Linked DNA regions of Homo sapiens: region 2 is linked to region 1. A link means that fine-mapping ties the variant in region 1 to the expression of a gene that starts in the linked region. Tissue or cell type: whole blood. Region 1 holds a variant in brackets; the other region holds the start of a gene. All regions are shown on one strand. Distances are from middle to middle.

Evidence for each region. PIP is the estimated chance that this variant, and not a neighbour inherited with it, causes the effect.
Region 2: it holds the start of ADGRE1, and the variant in region 1 is fine-mapped to the expression of ADGRE1 in whole blood (INTERVAL, PIP above 0.99).

Annotation. Positions count from the first base shown.
Region 1 is chr19:6,936,144-6,944,237 of GRCh38, forward strand. It overlaps ADGRE1 (adhesion G protein-coupled receptor E1), which reads left to right. Exons shown (of 21, transcript NM_001974.5): 19 at 1,100-1,268; 20 at 1,401-1,505; 21 at 3,881-4,307. The coding sequence ends at 3,886. LOC105372256 (a long non-coding RNA gene) reads right to left here and starts at 2,560. Exons shown (of 3, transcript XR_936288.4): 1 at 2,498-2,560. The variant G/T (reference allele first, on the strand shown) is at 4,651.
Region 2 is chr19:6,883,170-6,891,272 of GRCh38, forward strand. ADGRE1 (adhesion G protein-coupled receptor E1) reads left to right here and starts at 4,410. Exons shown (of 21, transcript NM_001974.5): 1 at 4,410-4,470; 2 at 7,312-7,374. The coding sequence starts at 4,440. RefSeq lists an enhancer at 4,404-4,463.

The sequences.
Region 1 (8,094 bases):
GTCAAAAAGGAGGCCTGGTGTGGTGGCTCATGCCTGTATTCCCAGCAGTTTGGGAGGCTGAGGCAGGTGGATCACGAGGTCAGGAGATCGAGATCATCCTGGCTAACATGGTGAAACCCTGTCTTTACTAAAAATACAAAAAATTAGCCGGGCATGGTGGTGGGCACCTGTAGTCCCAGCTACTTGGGAGGCTGAGGCAGGAGAATAGCTTGAACCCAGGAGGCGGAGCTTGCAGTGAGCCAAGATCACGCCACTGCACTCCAGCCTGGGTGACAGAGTGACACTCCATCTCCAAAAAAAAAAAAAGACAAAAAGGTAAAACAAAGTTGATACATACACATACTCATAGCAGAAAATGTAAGCAATAAGTTTCACATCAGATGAAATTCACCATTTTAACCATTTTAAAGCGTGTAACTCGGTGGCTTTTCGTACATTCACAGTGTTGGGCAGTGACCGCCACTATCTAGTGGCAAATCCTTGTTTTTTTTTTTTTTTTGAGACAGAGTCTCTCTCTCGCCCAGGCTAGAGGGCATTGGCACGGTCTCGACTCACTGCAACCTCCGCCTCCCAGGTTCAAGCGATTCTCCTGCCTCAGCCTCCTGGGTAGCTGGGATTACAGGCATCTGCCACCGTGCCCGGCTAATTTTTCTATTTTTAGTAGAGACGGGTTTTCACCATGTTAACCAGGCTGGGCTCGAACTCCTGTCCTCAGGTGATCCACCAGCCTTGGCCTCCCAAAGTGCTGGGATTACAAGCACCCACCACCACACCCAGCTAATTTTTGTATTTTTAGTAGAGATGGGTTTTCACCATGTTGGCCAGGCTGGTCTCGAACTTCTGTCCTCAGGTGACCTGCCCACCTCGGCCTCCCAAAGTGCTGGGATTACAGGCTTGAGCCACCGCACCCAGCCTGATTGCATTTAAATGTCTATAGGATTTGATTTTGCAACACCTAGGCTTGGAGACCCCACCCTACATTTGTCCACACCTAGGTGGCAAATTGGAGAGTGGCCACCTCAGACCATTCCTGGAAGTGTGGCCTGCAAGGACAATAGCCACCTCCCAGAGCCTTACATGCTGTACATCTTCTCCCCAGGTTACTGACCTTCAAGGCCTTTGCCCAGCTCTTCATCCTGGGCTGCTCCTGGGTGCTGGGCATTTTTCAGATTGGACCTGTGGCAGGTGTCATGGCTTACCTGTTCACCATCATCAACAGCCTGCAGGGGGCCTTCATCTTCCTCATCCACTGTCTGCTCAACGGCCAGGTGTGTAGCTGCTGCCCTCCCCATCCCCCTCCTCCCATCCCCCTCTCCCCCCTTCCCCACCGCATCCCTCCACCCAACATCCCTGTCACTGGACCATTTCCCTGCATCTGGATGATGTGTCTCCTTCTCCAGGTACGAGAAGAATACAAGAGGTGGATCACTGGGAAGACGAAGCCCAGCTCCCAGTCCCAGACCTCAAGGATCTTGCTGTCCTCCATGCCATCCGCTTCCAAGACGGTGAGAGACTGCATGCTCCCTGCAGGTGCTGGTCGAGGGAGGTGCCGGCCTCTTGGTGACACTCAGCTCTGCCACGTGTTGGGTACTGAATGGGAGCTGAGGGTGCCCACCCTAGTTAGCTCATGGATGAAGTGTGGAGTTGAAGACTGGGGATTTATATGTATATATTAGCAGACACACACACATTATCTATCTCTCTATTTAAATAAAATTTCAAGAATAAGACATATATAATTTATAACAGATTTACATAGATACATTTGTATATGAATTATGTAACATATTAAAAATAATACATATTTATATGTTATGTTTATAAAATACATTTATATGCACTTATTATATACATATAATGTATAATATTATATACATATAAATGTAAGATGTAAGTTTAAATATAGATACCGGCTGGGCGCGGTGGCTCACACCTGTAATCCCAACACTTTGGGAGGCTAAGGTGGGCAGATTACCTGAGGCCAGGAGTTCGAGACCAACCTGGCCAACATGGCAAAACCCCCATCTCTATTAAAAATACAAAATTAGCCGGGCATGGTGGCAGGTGTCTGTAATCCCAGCTACTCATGAGGCTGAGGCAGGAGAATTGCTTGAACCCAAGAGGCGGAGGTTGCAGTGAGCAGAGATTGTGCCATTGCACTCCAGCCTGGGCAAAAAGAGCGAAACTCCATCTCAAAAAAAAATTAAATAAATATAGATATCTTCACATGTATATTTATATAGAGAAAATTTTTATGTATTATGGATAACATTTATATATGTAGATTTTCAGGAATATTGAAATATTGGAATGAATATGCAAATGGAGGCAAAGCTGGTTTTCCCACTAGAATGTCTTATTTTTTTCAACAATGTATTCCACGCCCCTAAAATGCTGTCTAGCACACAGTAAGTTCTTAGTGAATATTTTCTGAGTAAATAATAATTCAATAGCTTAGTTTCCTCACTGATAAAATGGGGATAATGGTAATCCTTACCTTGGAAGGTTATACTAGATATTAGATGAACCAGTATGCAATGGGGTTGGAAGAGTGCCTCGGACATAGCAGGATCTCAGTGTTAAGCCTTGCAGAAGTCCAGTGAGGTAGGTATCACTGCTCTATTTTCTTTTTTCTTTCTTTCTTTCTTTCTTTTTTTCTTTTTTTTTTTTGAGATGGAGTCTCGCTCTGTAACCCAGGCTGGAGTGCAGTGGTGTGATCTTGGCTCATTGCAACCTCTGCCTCCTGGGTTCAAGCGATTTTCCTGCCTCAGCCTCCCAAGTAGCTGGGATTACAGGCGCCCGCCAGCACACCCAGATAAATTTTGTATTTTTAGTAGAGACAGGGTTTCATGATGTTGGCCAGGTTGGTCTCGAACTCCTGACCTCAGGTGATCCACCTGCCTCAGCCTCCCAAAGTTCTGGGATTACAGGTGTGAGCCACCACGCCCAGCTGGTCTATTTTCATTATGAGGAAACCGAATGTCATAGAGGTTAAGTCCAGTGATTTCAGAATGAGCCACAGGAATCACCCCACTGGAAAAATTGCCCATATCATGGATGACATATTCTCTTGGCAATACATTTTTAAACATAATGCAGTTTACTATAGTTTTAATGAAAAAGACAGTATAGGTATAGAACATTTTAGAAAACATTTGTAAGCATTGAAAACAAATAAAATTTCCCATTATCCCACCACATACAGATCCCAGTGAGTCATATTTTTGGATGCAAGCACCTTAGATCCAGTGGCTTAATTAAATAGGGAAATGATTTTCCTTGCAAGAAGTCCAGAATTAGGTGTTGCGAATATTGCTGGTGTTGCTGGTTCTATGCTTAGTGGTGTTGTAAAGGCTCTAAACTAAGAATCTGGGTTTTCCCCAGTTTTCCATTCCACCATCAACATGTTGACATTTTATTGTATTTTCATGGTTGCAATATGGTTGCCACAGCTCCAGACATCATGACTATGTTCAAGTCAAGAAGAAGAGGGATGGACAGGACCAGAAAGCCCTTCTTTCATGTCTTTGTCTTTAACAGTAAATGAAAGCCCAGAAAACTCTCAGATTTCCCTTTACCTAATTGGTCAGAAGTGTATCATGTGACCACTCATATGGGCAAAAAATTTTGAACCAACAGCTGTTTGGCTTCCTAAAGTCCAGAGTGGGCGCTGTCAATGCTGAGGAGGTTGAGAATGGCTTTTGGGTTTTCCAACTCTGCCTGCCACACTAGGGACAATCGCATTTAACATTTTAGTGTTTATCCTTCTAGTCTTTGTTACTGTATTTTTAATACTTCTGTCCCTGTAGACATGACCCTTGGAATCACGTTTGTATTAATTCTGCTGCAGACTCTGAGGAAATTCTTTTCTCTCTCACAGGGTTAAAGTCCTTTCTTGCTTTCAAATATGCTATGGAGCCACAGTTGAGGACAGTAGTTTCCTGCAGGAGCCTACCCTGAAATCTCTTCTCAGCTTAACATGGAAATGAGGATCCCACCAGCCCCAGAACCCTCTGGGGAAGAATGTTGGGGGCGGTCTTCCTGTGGTTGTATGCACTGATGAGAAATCAGGCGTTTCTGCTCCAAACGACCATTTTATCTTCGTGCTCTGCAACTTCTTCAATTCCAGAGTTTCTGAGAACAGACCCAAATTCAATGGCATGACCAAGAACACCTGGCTACCATTTTGTTTTCTCCTGCCCTTGTTGGTGCATGGTTCTAAGCATGCCCCTCCAGAGCCTATCATACGCCTGATACAGAGAACCTCTCAATAAATGATTTGTCGCCTGTCTGACTGATTTACCCTAGGATAAAGACTCTTTGTGATTTTAAAGAAATGGTCAGTAAAACTGTAATGAGAGTCCCAGGGAACCAAGACGGCACATAGACAGATAAGCTACTTTGGCACAAACACTTAAAAATAGTTGTGTTGGTAAGTAGGGGGATGTTTGATGTAGCAGAATTCTAGCACTCCCTGGAGGGTTGAAGCACTTGGTGACAACAACCTTTGGAAAGTGCTTTGGTTTCCTGAGGTCCTTCAGGTAACCAAGACCTCCCTGTTTTCTAGAAACTTTCTAATGACTTGGCTAGGATTTAGGATTTTCTCTATCACAGTTATCGCTACCTATCCTTAATTTTTTTTTTTTTTTT[G/T]ACAGAGTCTCGGTCTGTTGCCCAGGCCAGAGTGCAGTGGCATGATCTCGGCTCATTGCAACCTCTGCCTCCCGGGTGCAAGTGATTCTCCTGCCTCAGCCTCCCAAGTAGCTGGACTGCAGGCGTGCACCACCACGCCTGGCTAATTTTTGTATTTTTAGTAGAGACGGAGTTTCAGCATGTTGGCCAGGCTGATCTTGCACTCCTGACCTCAGATGATCCACCCGCCTCACCCTCCCAAAGTGCTGGGATTACAGGCATGAGCCACTGCGCCCGGCCACCATCCTTAAATTCTTGAGCTTGGGAGAGAAGAAGATGAAGGTTTAAATGCAGGTATTTTCACTTCTATGGGCACTGTAAAACCTCCCAATCCAAAGCGTGGTCCCTGGATCATCAGCATCACCTGAGAGCTTGTTAGAAAAGCAAAGAAGAATCTCAGACCCCACTCCAGACCTCCTAGATCAGGACTTGCATGTTAACATCCCCAGGGGATGAATATAACCATGGGTGTCTGAAAAGCACTATTGTAGAACATTCTTCTGTTTGCCATGCTGACAGCAGAGCTTGTCTTTAAAGCCAGAGAGAAATGTCTTCTTCTTGACTTGGACCCTTTGCATCTTCTCTTAGAATAACTTCCCTGAAAACTCAATTGATGTCTTCTGTCTCTTTGAGTTGCAGTGTAGTCATCCCCTCTGCTAGGAAGCATTCTTTGAATCTCCTACAGTAGAATTTGGCATTATTTTTGTGTGTGCCAAAAAGCTTCATGCTTTCTCACCCTGTATTATGATTTCTCTTTTTGTTGGGTGTCTCCAACATAGACTGTGAGCTTCGTAAGTACAGAGATTTGCATTAAGTAGCGTCTCAACAAATATGTTGAATGAATGAATGAATGAATGATTAGAATGATTACTCTTCATTTTGAAGACAGGGGAACTGAAGCTCAGAGAGGTTAAGTGACTATCCCAGGATCACACAGCCACATAGGTCGTTGAGCTGGGTTTTGAGCTCTTGACCATAAAGCTCCTTCTCCAGATGCCTTGTTCCCCTTTTTCTCTTCCTTTCGTGCCAGGAATACTTAGTTTAGGGTTACAGAGACTAGAATAATATTTACTCTGAGTCACCTAAGCAGTTAGGATTCAATTAGCTCAGTCATATCATGCACTGGACAATTTGTTAACAATATTAAACTCAGTTGATGGAGGCTCTGTCTTTGTTATTCTTGGCAGCCTAACTTGGGAGGTGGGACACATGTTTGTGAACAAGAGTTCATCTATGATAAATTAGTCTTCAACGCTTGGCTTATCCAGAGTGCTCAATACAGAGGTGATAGTTCTTAGAGAGATGGAAGCAAGAGATGGCACTGCTCCTATCCATAGCCAATTGTCATAGGTCAATGGCATCAATGGGCCCAATAATGGTCTCCATTTAGCCACATCCCTTTCCTGTAACTTTGTAACTCTCTCCTTGTCTGACTCTGGGGTTGGACTTGAGATTTGCTGCAGCCAGTGGAAGGTTAGGAAATGTGACTGGAACGTAAGTTTCAAAATCGTATGTGTAATCCTTCTTACCAGTTACACGATTACATTTGCTCACCTTGCTTCCTTACCCCCACCATGTGAACATGCCCAAGCCCGCCTGCTGGAGGGACATGAGAAACACAGAATGAAGGGTAAGTCACCGCAGTTACACTGGTGGAGGTTGTCCTCAGCCAGCCACCATGCCAACTTGCTGCTTTAATCACAGGAGAGAGCCCAGCCAACATCAGCAGACCTGCTCAGCCAACCCATAAACAGACTGAGGAGCAGCAAGAAAGTATCATTTTTCAGACACTGAGTTTCAGGAGTTATTTGTTATGAAGCATTTATTTGTAGCAATTGCTGATGGATACAACAACCAAAGTATGGTCAACATTCTGCATTGGACTGCAACAATTTGGAATGTAAAAAGAAAGAATTTTGATCTCAATTTCTTCTGAGATATCAGGATAATAAATTCTGTACTACTTGAATAAAGTTTTTTCCTGAGAGAAGATTTGCCTAAGGCTTTGTCTGTCTGTACAACGGTGTTACATGTTGGTCTGAAATATAGTCACCTTAAGAAGCTCTATATTTCTAAGGTAAGTGGATAAAGGTGTGACCTCCATGCAGGATTTTTTTCGTACTACACACATCAAGCTATACTTGGTACATTTTTTTTACCCTTGTGGTCTCATATGTCTCCGCTAGAGGGAGAAAGGAGACAATTAAAAAAAAAATGCGGCCCGGCGCGGTGGCTCACGCCTGTAATCCCAGCACTTTGGGAGGCTGAGGCGGGCGGATCACGAGGTCAGGAGATTGAGAACATCCTGGCTCACCCGGTGAAACCCCGACTCTACTAAAAATACAAAAAAATTAGCCGGGCGTGGTGGTGGGCGCCTGTAGTCCCAGCTACTAGGGAGGCTGAGGCAGGAGAATGGCGTGAACCCGGGAGGTGGAGCTTGCAGTGAGCCGAGATCGTGCCACTGCACTCCAGCCTGGGTGACAGAGCGAGACTCCATCTCAAAAAAAAAAAAAAAAAAAATGCATGAGTAGAAGAAATACGTTCTGAAGTTCACTGGTAGAGTAGGGTGACTATTGTTAGCAACACTGTATTGCATATTTCAAAATATCTAGCAGAGAAAACTTGAAATGTTTCCAACAGCTAGAAATGATCAATGATCAAGATGGTGGACACCCCAAATACCCTGTCTTTATCATTGCAAACTCTGCATGCAACAAAATATCACATGTACCCCATAAATATGTACAGATATTATATATGGAAAACCCTAAGTGGCTGCAAATCCCATGAATATAATGTGAAATAACTTTGCTATCTTATAATCCAAATAATTGTGTACAGAAAATTACAGATCCATTCACTCAAAAAATATTTATTGGCCGGGTGCTGTGGCTCACGCCTGTAATCCCAGCACTTTGGGAGGTCGGAGCAGGCTGATCATGAGACCAGGAGATTGAGACCATCCTGGCTAACACGATGAAACCCCGTCTCTACTAAAAATACAAAAATCAGCCGGGCGTGGTGGCGGGCGCCTGTAGTCCCAGCTACTCGGGAGGCTGGGACAGGAGAATCGCTTGAATCCGGGAGGCGGAGCTTACAGTGAGCCGAGATCGCGCCACTGCACTCCAGCCTGGGTGATAGAGTGAGACTCTGTCTCAGAAAAAAAAATGTATTGACCACCTCTATTGTGCTTCCCCCTCAAACACTGAAGTAGTTAAAAACATTGAAACATTGAAAAGTAATTATTTTAGAACCTAAAAAGTATTTTAAATTTAAGTATTTTATAGTTCCCAAACTAGAATTATTAAAATTATACTTTACTGGTTCTAATGGAAGTAAACTCATCAATAACAGTTTTTAAATTGGTGTCTGAAAAGAAAAATCATTAAAAAAATATTATTTGGC
Region 2 (8,103 bases), 53 kb before region 1:
GGCATGAGCCACTGCTCCTGGGTGAGATCCTATTCTTAATGCGCCCATTTTACAGATGAGAATATTTGAGGCAAGCAGTGGAGGTGGGATTTGAACCTCTGGCAATATGTTTCCAGAGTTCATCTCCAGTGCTTCCGGAAACCACAATGCAGCTCTGTTTGTACCCCTTCCTGGTGGAATTTACTGTATTTTCATGCTGACTCTTAAGTTCAGCCTCTCCAGGCAGTGTCCCTTATTTTCCCCTTAAGAAAAAAAAAAAGTGCAACTGGCTGTCAGCACTTACTTAATTTTACATAAACACCCTTTTTGGGGCTGAAGCAAATCTGACTTCTTTTCTTTTTTTTTTCTTTTAGAAAAACACACTTTATTCATATTTCTTTGGGGTTTTGTTTTGTTGTTGTTGTTGTTTTTGTTTGTTTTTTGAGACCAAGTCTTGCTGTGTCACCCAGGCTGGAGTACAGTGGTGCGATCTCAGCTCACTGCAACGTCTGCCTCCCAGGCTCAAGCTATTCTCCTGCCTCAGCCTCCCAAGTAGCTGGGACTACAGGTACGTACCACCATGCCGGGCTAATTTTTGTATTTTTAGTAGAGACAGAGTTTCATCATGTTGGCCAGGCTGGTCTTGAACTCCTAGCCTCAGGTGATCCACCCACCTCGGCCTTCCAAAGTGCTGGGATTACAGGTGTGAGCCACCGTGCCCAGCCAAATCTGACTGATTTTCAATGTGAAAATAAAATATAAAAACAGTTCTTGGAGTTATTTCTAACCAGAACTAACATCAGAATCGTCAATTTTGGAAAAATTGGATTCATCAGATAAATTTTCAGCCAACAACTGTTTGAGAATGATAGTAACATCATGCGTAGGAATGCTACACTTTTCTAGGATCTGACATTTTCAGCAATCAAGAATTACTGTATTTTGTAAAATATACTATAGTATATAGTAAAAAATACCATATTTTGTAAAATATAGTAATCTGGAAATATCCCTACTAAAAACAGAACACTATAAATAGAATCATGTCTTTTGTTTTCAAAGTTGATACACTAGAGCAATGCAAAAATAATAATAAAGGTGAGATATTTCACGGCAAAGTTATCTCTGGGTAAATGCTGCAGCCACAAGCGCCACCAGCTAGTATTCTTGGGGCCAACGGGGAAAGAATGAAGGCACAAACAGAAAGCCACTGATGAATCTGGCTAGACGCGGTGTCTCAGGCCTGTAATCCCAACACTTTGGGAGGCCAAGGTGGGAGGATCACCTGAGGTCGGGAGTTCCAGACCAGCCTGGCCAACATGGTGAAACCTCGTCTCTACTAAAAATACAAAAGTTAGCTGGGCATGGTAATACACGCCTGTAATCCCAGAAACTACTCGGGAGGCGGAGGTTGCAGTAAGCCAAGATCACGCCACTGCACTCCAGCCTGGGTGACAGAGCGAGAGTCCATCTCAGAAAAAAAAATAAAATAAAATAAAAAAAGAAAGCCATTGGTGAATCTTTGTTCCAGTGACAATAACTCCAAAGCTGGTAGTTTGCTTTGCAAAGAACAAAAGGGGAAGGCAAAAACACGTGGAGCTTTTCTTTCTAAGAATTCGGGGATGTTCTATGCACCTCCTTTGTACCTTGTGACAGCTGCTATCAGTGGCTGCCCACACCCATAACCTAACAACACATTAATATGCCCTAGCTTAACGCTGATACGGGAGCTAGAAAGAAGTTATTTAGGCAGAGAGTGAGGGCAAGAGAGTCCTCGGTAAGGTTTGCCTTTTAATAAAAAGCAGCCCCCAAATCATTTATTTTATTTTATTTTTTTTTTTTTGAGACAGAGTCTTGCTCTGTCGCTCAGGCTGGAGTACAGCGGCACAATCTCGGCTCACTGCAAGCTCCGCCTCCCGGATTCAAGCAATTCTCCTGCCTCAGCCTCCCGAGTAGCTGGGATTACAGGCGCATGCCACCATGCCCGGCTAATTTTTGTATTTTTAGTGGAGACGGGGTTTCACCATGTTGGTCAGGCTGGTCTCAAACTCCTGACCTTGTGATCCACCCGCCTCGGCCTCCCAAAGCGCTGGAATTACAGGCGTGAGCCACCGCGCCCGGCCAAATAATTTCTTTTCTAAAAAAGAGCAGTCTGAAAAATCAGCCGGCAGACATAGAAAAGCAAGCTGGAAGCTTGCTCGGGTGAATGCCGGCAGCTGTGCCAATGGGAATAGGCTACCTGGGTGCCAGGCGTGTTCAACATGCAGGCTTGCTCCATGTTCCCTTTTCTTTATCAACCACGTGTACGGTAAAGGAACAGGCAACATGGTCCTGGCCAGGTAGAGACCCCATCTGCATAATAAAATATTAGGGTGGGCAGCCAGCTTCTTTGTACTCTATGTAAACGGCACACCTGGTCCAACTAATCTTTGGGCCCTTATGTAAATCAGATATCACCACCTAAAGCTCATCTATAAAACCCCGTGCATTTCACCATGAAACTGGAAGACCCACTTGGGAGCCCCCTCTCTTTGCAGGAGAGAGAGCTTTTCTCTTTCTCTCGCCTATTAAATTTCTTTTCTTTCTTTCTTTTTTTTTTTTTTTTTGAGATGGAGTCTTGCTCTGTCACCCAGGCTGGAGTTCAATGGCACAATCTCGGCTCACTGCAACCTCTGCTTCCCGGGTTCAAGCGATTCTCTTGCCTCAGCCTCCTGAGTAGCTGGAATTACAGGCATGAGCCACCACACCTGGCTAATTTTTGTATTTTTAGTAGAGATGGGGTTTCACTATGTTGCCCAGGCTGGTCTCAAACTCCTGATCTTAGGTGATCCACCCGTCTCAGCCTCCCAAAGTGCTGGGATTACAGGCATGAGCCACTGTGCTCGGCCTAAACCTCTGCTCTAAAAGTAATTTTTTGTGTGTCTGCATTTTATTTTATTTTATTTTATTTTATTTTATTTTATTTTATTTTATTTTATTTTAAGACAGAGTCCCACTCTGTTGCCTAGGCTGGAGTGCAGTGGCACGATCTCGGCTCACTGCAGCCTCCGCCTCCTGGGTTCAAGCAATTCTCTGCCTCAGCCTCCGGAGTAGCTGGGATTACAGGTGCCTAACACCATACCACACTGGCTGATTTTTTGTATTTTTAGTAAAGACGGGGTTTCCCCATCTTGGCCAGGCTGGTCTTGAACTCCTGACCTCGTAATCCACCCTCCTCAGTCTCCCAAAGTGCTGAGATTACAGGTGTGAGCCACGGTGCCCGGCCATGTCTGTATTTTCTATTTCCTTGGTGTGAGGCAATGAACCTCGGGTATTACCCCAGATGGATGACACTGCTTCAATATCTGCCAGTCACTACACTTTGTTATCAGTGGGATTACATCAACTGGAGCCCATTCTATCTGCTTGGAGGCCAGGCCTGAAGATTCAAGGGGTTGACACCCTCTAGGAGCAAGCCTCAAGTCAACCCATGACTGACAGTAGGTGGGATATAAATACCTCAGCTCCCTCACCCCTCGGTTGGAATAACTGAAGAGTATGTTCCATGCCGCTCCCCAGTCATCCCTGGGGAGGTTAAGTTCCACTTTCTCACCATGTAACTTATTTGAAGACACACCCAGTATTGGCTCTTTGCCTTTCCTGATTCACTTTCTCCTCCCCCAGCTGGTGCTTTCTGGGGCCACCTTCTTGATAAACTACTTTTGCTAGAATCCTTGTCTGAGGGTCTGCCCTTGTGAGACCCTAAGATGTTACCAGAGAGAGTTAGGAAGCTGGGAATGGGGTGGAAGTGTTGCTGTATAATCGTCAGACAGAGTTGAGATCTGAAGGAAAATAAGATGGTTAAAGCTCTTGACTCTGGAATCAGAGGGTCCTGGGTTCAAATCTCAAGTCTGAGAGATCTTGGACAAGTTATAACTCCTCTGCAAGTCTCAGTTTCCATTTTGTTGGTGAATAGAGGGAGGGAGGGGAATTCCTACTTTACAAGGTTAACATGATAATGAAATTACACTTTGTTGCCAATGTGCCTAGCACACTGCCTGGTACATGATGGTTGTGATGGCTGTCTTTATACGGGAGACTGGGAAGAGACCCTAAAGGCTGAGATTTGCTTCACTGGAGGCAGGAAGCGGAAGCTCCTTTATTGGGTGCAATGAAAGAAGGTGTTGAGAGATGGGAGATAGATGTTGATGGGAAAGAAAAAGGGAGAGACCATGGGAAGGAGAGAGAGAGAGAATGATATACATTAGGCAGATTAACTTCTCTTTATTGTGAAGAAAGGGGGAAATTAGGATTTTCTAGGCTGTCTTTTAGTTGCAGCAAGTCAGCAAAAAGGGCTATGATGACCAGGCAGCATTGAGCAACTCTGACTCCGCCTTCCCCTCTTCGCACACCTTCTGGTTACTGAAAACCCAGCGTTAGTAGAAAAGTTTCTTTTCTTTGAATGACAGAACTACAGCATAATGCGTGGCTTCAACCTGCTCCTCTTCTGGGGTGAGTGTGAGGCTGAATGGGGGGCTAGGGGAGGCCTGGATTGGAAATAGACTTCAGGAGAAATGGGAGGGCCATGGATGGTCCAGCCAAGAGATCATAAGTCCAGACTGGATGCTGCAAACACCTTCATTCAGGGAACCTTTGACAAAATTCCATAGCTCAGGGAAGTCCATCTGTTAGGATAGATTTTTCTCTATAGTCATTCATTTGACCTGAGCAAGTCCTGTGTGTCAGGTGCTGTTCTAGGCACTAGAGGATATAGCAGTGAGAAAAAAAGACTAAGTTCCTGCACTCTTGAGGCTGATATTCTAGTGGGTAGGAGCAGACAGGAAAGAAGGCACAGATGATCATAGCCCACTTAGCACTGCTGTAACTTCTTTAAACATAGAGTGTATCCAATTGTCACAACATTTCTATGACATTGGGTCATTATTAGTCCTATTTTGCAAATGAGAAAACTGAGGCAAAAGAGATAAAATAATTTTCCCAAGGCCACTTAGTCAATAAGGGGTAGAGGCAGGATTTCAAGCCAGACAGTCTGACTTCAGAGTCTGTAAGCTTTTCCACTATACTATGTTGCCCCAAAAAATAAGTAAACATAGGAATTTCAGGTAGTGATAAGTGCTATGAAAGAAGTTGTTATAGAATGTGGTCGGGAGTTATGTTGAAGGGAGAAGTCTGGGGTTGAGGAGGGGCAGTTCGAGCTGAGTCCTGAAGGATGAGATAGACCCTTCCTGTGCTCTTATTTCTCTTTCTTCAGGTGTCAGTTTGTCTCAGCCTTGTTTATCTTCTGTGTTTCTGGTTTTTCTTCTATGTCTTGTGTGTTTTGGTCATTGGATCAAATTTAAGAATGGAGGATATTGGGGACATATTCTAAGTAGCAAGTATGGGTTTCCTCTGCTGTTGAAGAGTGGATCTGAATACCCTATTTTACCAAGGAGGAAACTGAGGCACAAAGAGATTAAATAACTTCCTCAAGGCCACGCAATCATTAATTGGTGAAGCCAGATTTTTAAACCTAAGCACTTTGACTTCAGACTTTGTATGCCTAAACAGCATGCTGAATTACCTCTAAAATAATTAATGAATGAGTAGAAGAATTTTTGTTAGTAATAATAGATAGAATTTGGGAGTTTAGATCTGTGGGACTTGTTGACTGGCAGGCTACATTAGAAGAAATAGGTGGCCTGTGGACATCAAATGTAGGCATGCAGAGTTGTTATTTTGGGGTGTTGGCAATGGTATTAACCATTAACACTCCCTATTCTGCCCTGAAGATAATCAGCAAAGAGTTGTGATAATGATAGTGATGATAATGATCATGATGGTGGTGGTTATAATAGTGATGATGAAAATGGTGATGATGATGGTGATGGTGATGATGATGATGATGATAATGGTGATGATAGTGATAATGAAGATGATGGTGATGATGATGGTGTGATAATGACCATGAAGATGGTGATGATGGTGATGATGATAATGGTGATGATAGGGATAATGATGATGATGGTGGTGATGATGGTGTGATAATGACGATGAAGATGGTGATGTTGGTGATTATGGTGGTGATGATGATGATGGTGGTGATGGTGATAATGGTGATGGTGATGATGATAATGGTGATGATGGTGATAATAATGATGATGATGATGGTGATGATGAAGATGATGATGGTGATGATGATAGTGATAATGATGGCGATAATGATGATGGTGCAGGAGACCTAAATGCTGCAGGGCTGCATTGCCTTTAAACACTAAAAAATGGGCAGGGCGCAGTGGCTCACGCTTGTAATCCCAGCACTTTAGGAGGCTGAGGCAGGCAGATCATGAGGTCAGGAGATCGAGACCATCCTGGCCAACATGGAGAAACCCCGTTTCTACTAAAAATGCAAAAATTAGCTGGGCGTGGTGGTGCGTGCTTGTAATCCCAGCTACTCGGGAGGCTGAGGCAGGAGAATAGCTTGAACCAGGGAGTTGGTGGTTGCAGTGAGCCTAGATCACGCTACTGCACTCCAGCCTGGTGACAGAGTGAGACTCCATCTCAAAAAAAAAAAAAAAAAAAAAAAGGAAAGAAAAACGAATTGCCCTACCCTCTCATGAAATGTTAATACTACAGATATACTGTATACCTATATATGTATTTTCTATATATACATATGTATCTTATACATAAAAGAGTAAGCTTAAAAAGATCTCTTCCTGAGAACCAAGTTTGGGTCCTTAGAGGATATATCACCCCTTTTGAGAATGCATGCTTTAATGTATGTTTTTGAAAATCAGCTAGAACTTTTTTTTTTAGACAGGGTCACCTAGGCTGGAGCGCAGTGGCATGATCTTGGCTCACTGCAGTCTCTATCTCCTGGGCTCAAGCAATCCTTCCACCTCAGCCTCCTGAGTAGCTGGGGCTACAAGTTGTCACCACCACCCAGCTAATTTAAAAAATTTTTTTTTTGTAGAGACAAAGTCTCACTGTGTTGTCCAGGCCGGTGTCAAACTGCTGGTCTCAAGTGATCCTCCCACCTTGGCCTCCCGAAGGGCTGGGATTATAGGTGTGCACCACAGTGCTTAGCCTGGAACTATTTAATCAAAAAGAAAAAGAAGATAAAGACAGACAAAATGAAAAGCAAAAGCAAAGTACAGAAAACCAGGAATGGTCATTGTTAAGCTTATGCAAAATAGTGTATGTTTGTTCCTTAACTAGGTTTGTCATCTAGCCTCTTCAAACCTATTTCTGTGGGGCCAAGCCAGGAGTAATTTTGCAGGTTGAGCCCAAAAGGTTTTTTTTTTTTTTTTTTTTTTTGGTGGTTCATGGTGTTTTTCTTTTCTTTCTTCACAGGATGTTGTGTTATGCACAGCTGGGAAGGGCACATAAGACCCACACGGAAACCAAACACAAAGGGTAAGTTGGCCAGAGAGAATGCAGATGCCTGAAGGGGTAGAGAAAGTTTTCTCCCCGGGGAAACATCCCAGGAAGCTGAGCCTCATCCAGATGCTTGCTGGGAGCTAGTTAGCGGCAGAGCAAGGGTTAACATGCAAGTCTCCTGATTCTCACTTCAGGCTCTTTCCTTTGTGCTTAGAATTGCTGTGTGATCTCAGATAAGTCACATAACCTCTCTGAACTTCAGTTTCCCAAGCTGTGAAATACAGATAACAATAGGGATGTTGTGAAACTTTAATTCAAAGAGGTAGCTTTGGAAACCACCTGGTATGTAGTATGAGCTTTATAAATGGTAGTGTAGTGAGAGTAGGGATGGAATTTACTCAAACTACAACTCAATGTGCAAAAAAAAAGTGACTTCTTTATGTTTTGTTAAATACTCTCATCTACATAAACTCTTGCTGGATAAAGGAAGAAAGACATTGTCAGTTCGTAGTTGTTGATATGGTTTGGCTATGTCCTCACCCAAATCTCACCTTAAATTGTAAGAATCCCCACGTGTCAAGGGCGGGGCCAGTTGGAGATAATTGAATCATGGGGGATGGTTTCCCCCATACTGTTCTCGTGGTAGTGAGTAAGTCTCACGAGATCTGATGGTTTTATAAATGGGAGATCCCCGCACAAGCTCTCTTGCCTCCTGCCATGTAAGTAAGACATAATTTTGCTCCTCATGATTGTGAAGCCTCCCCA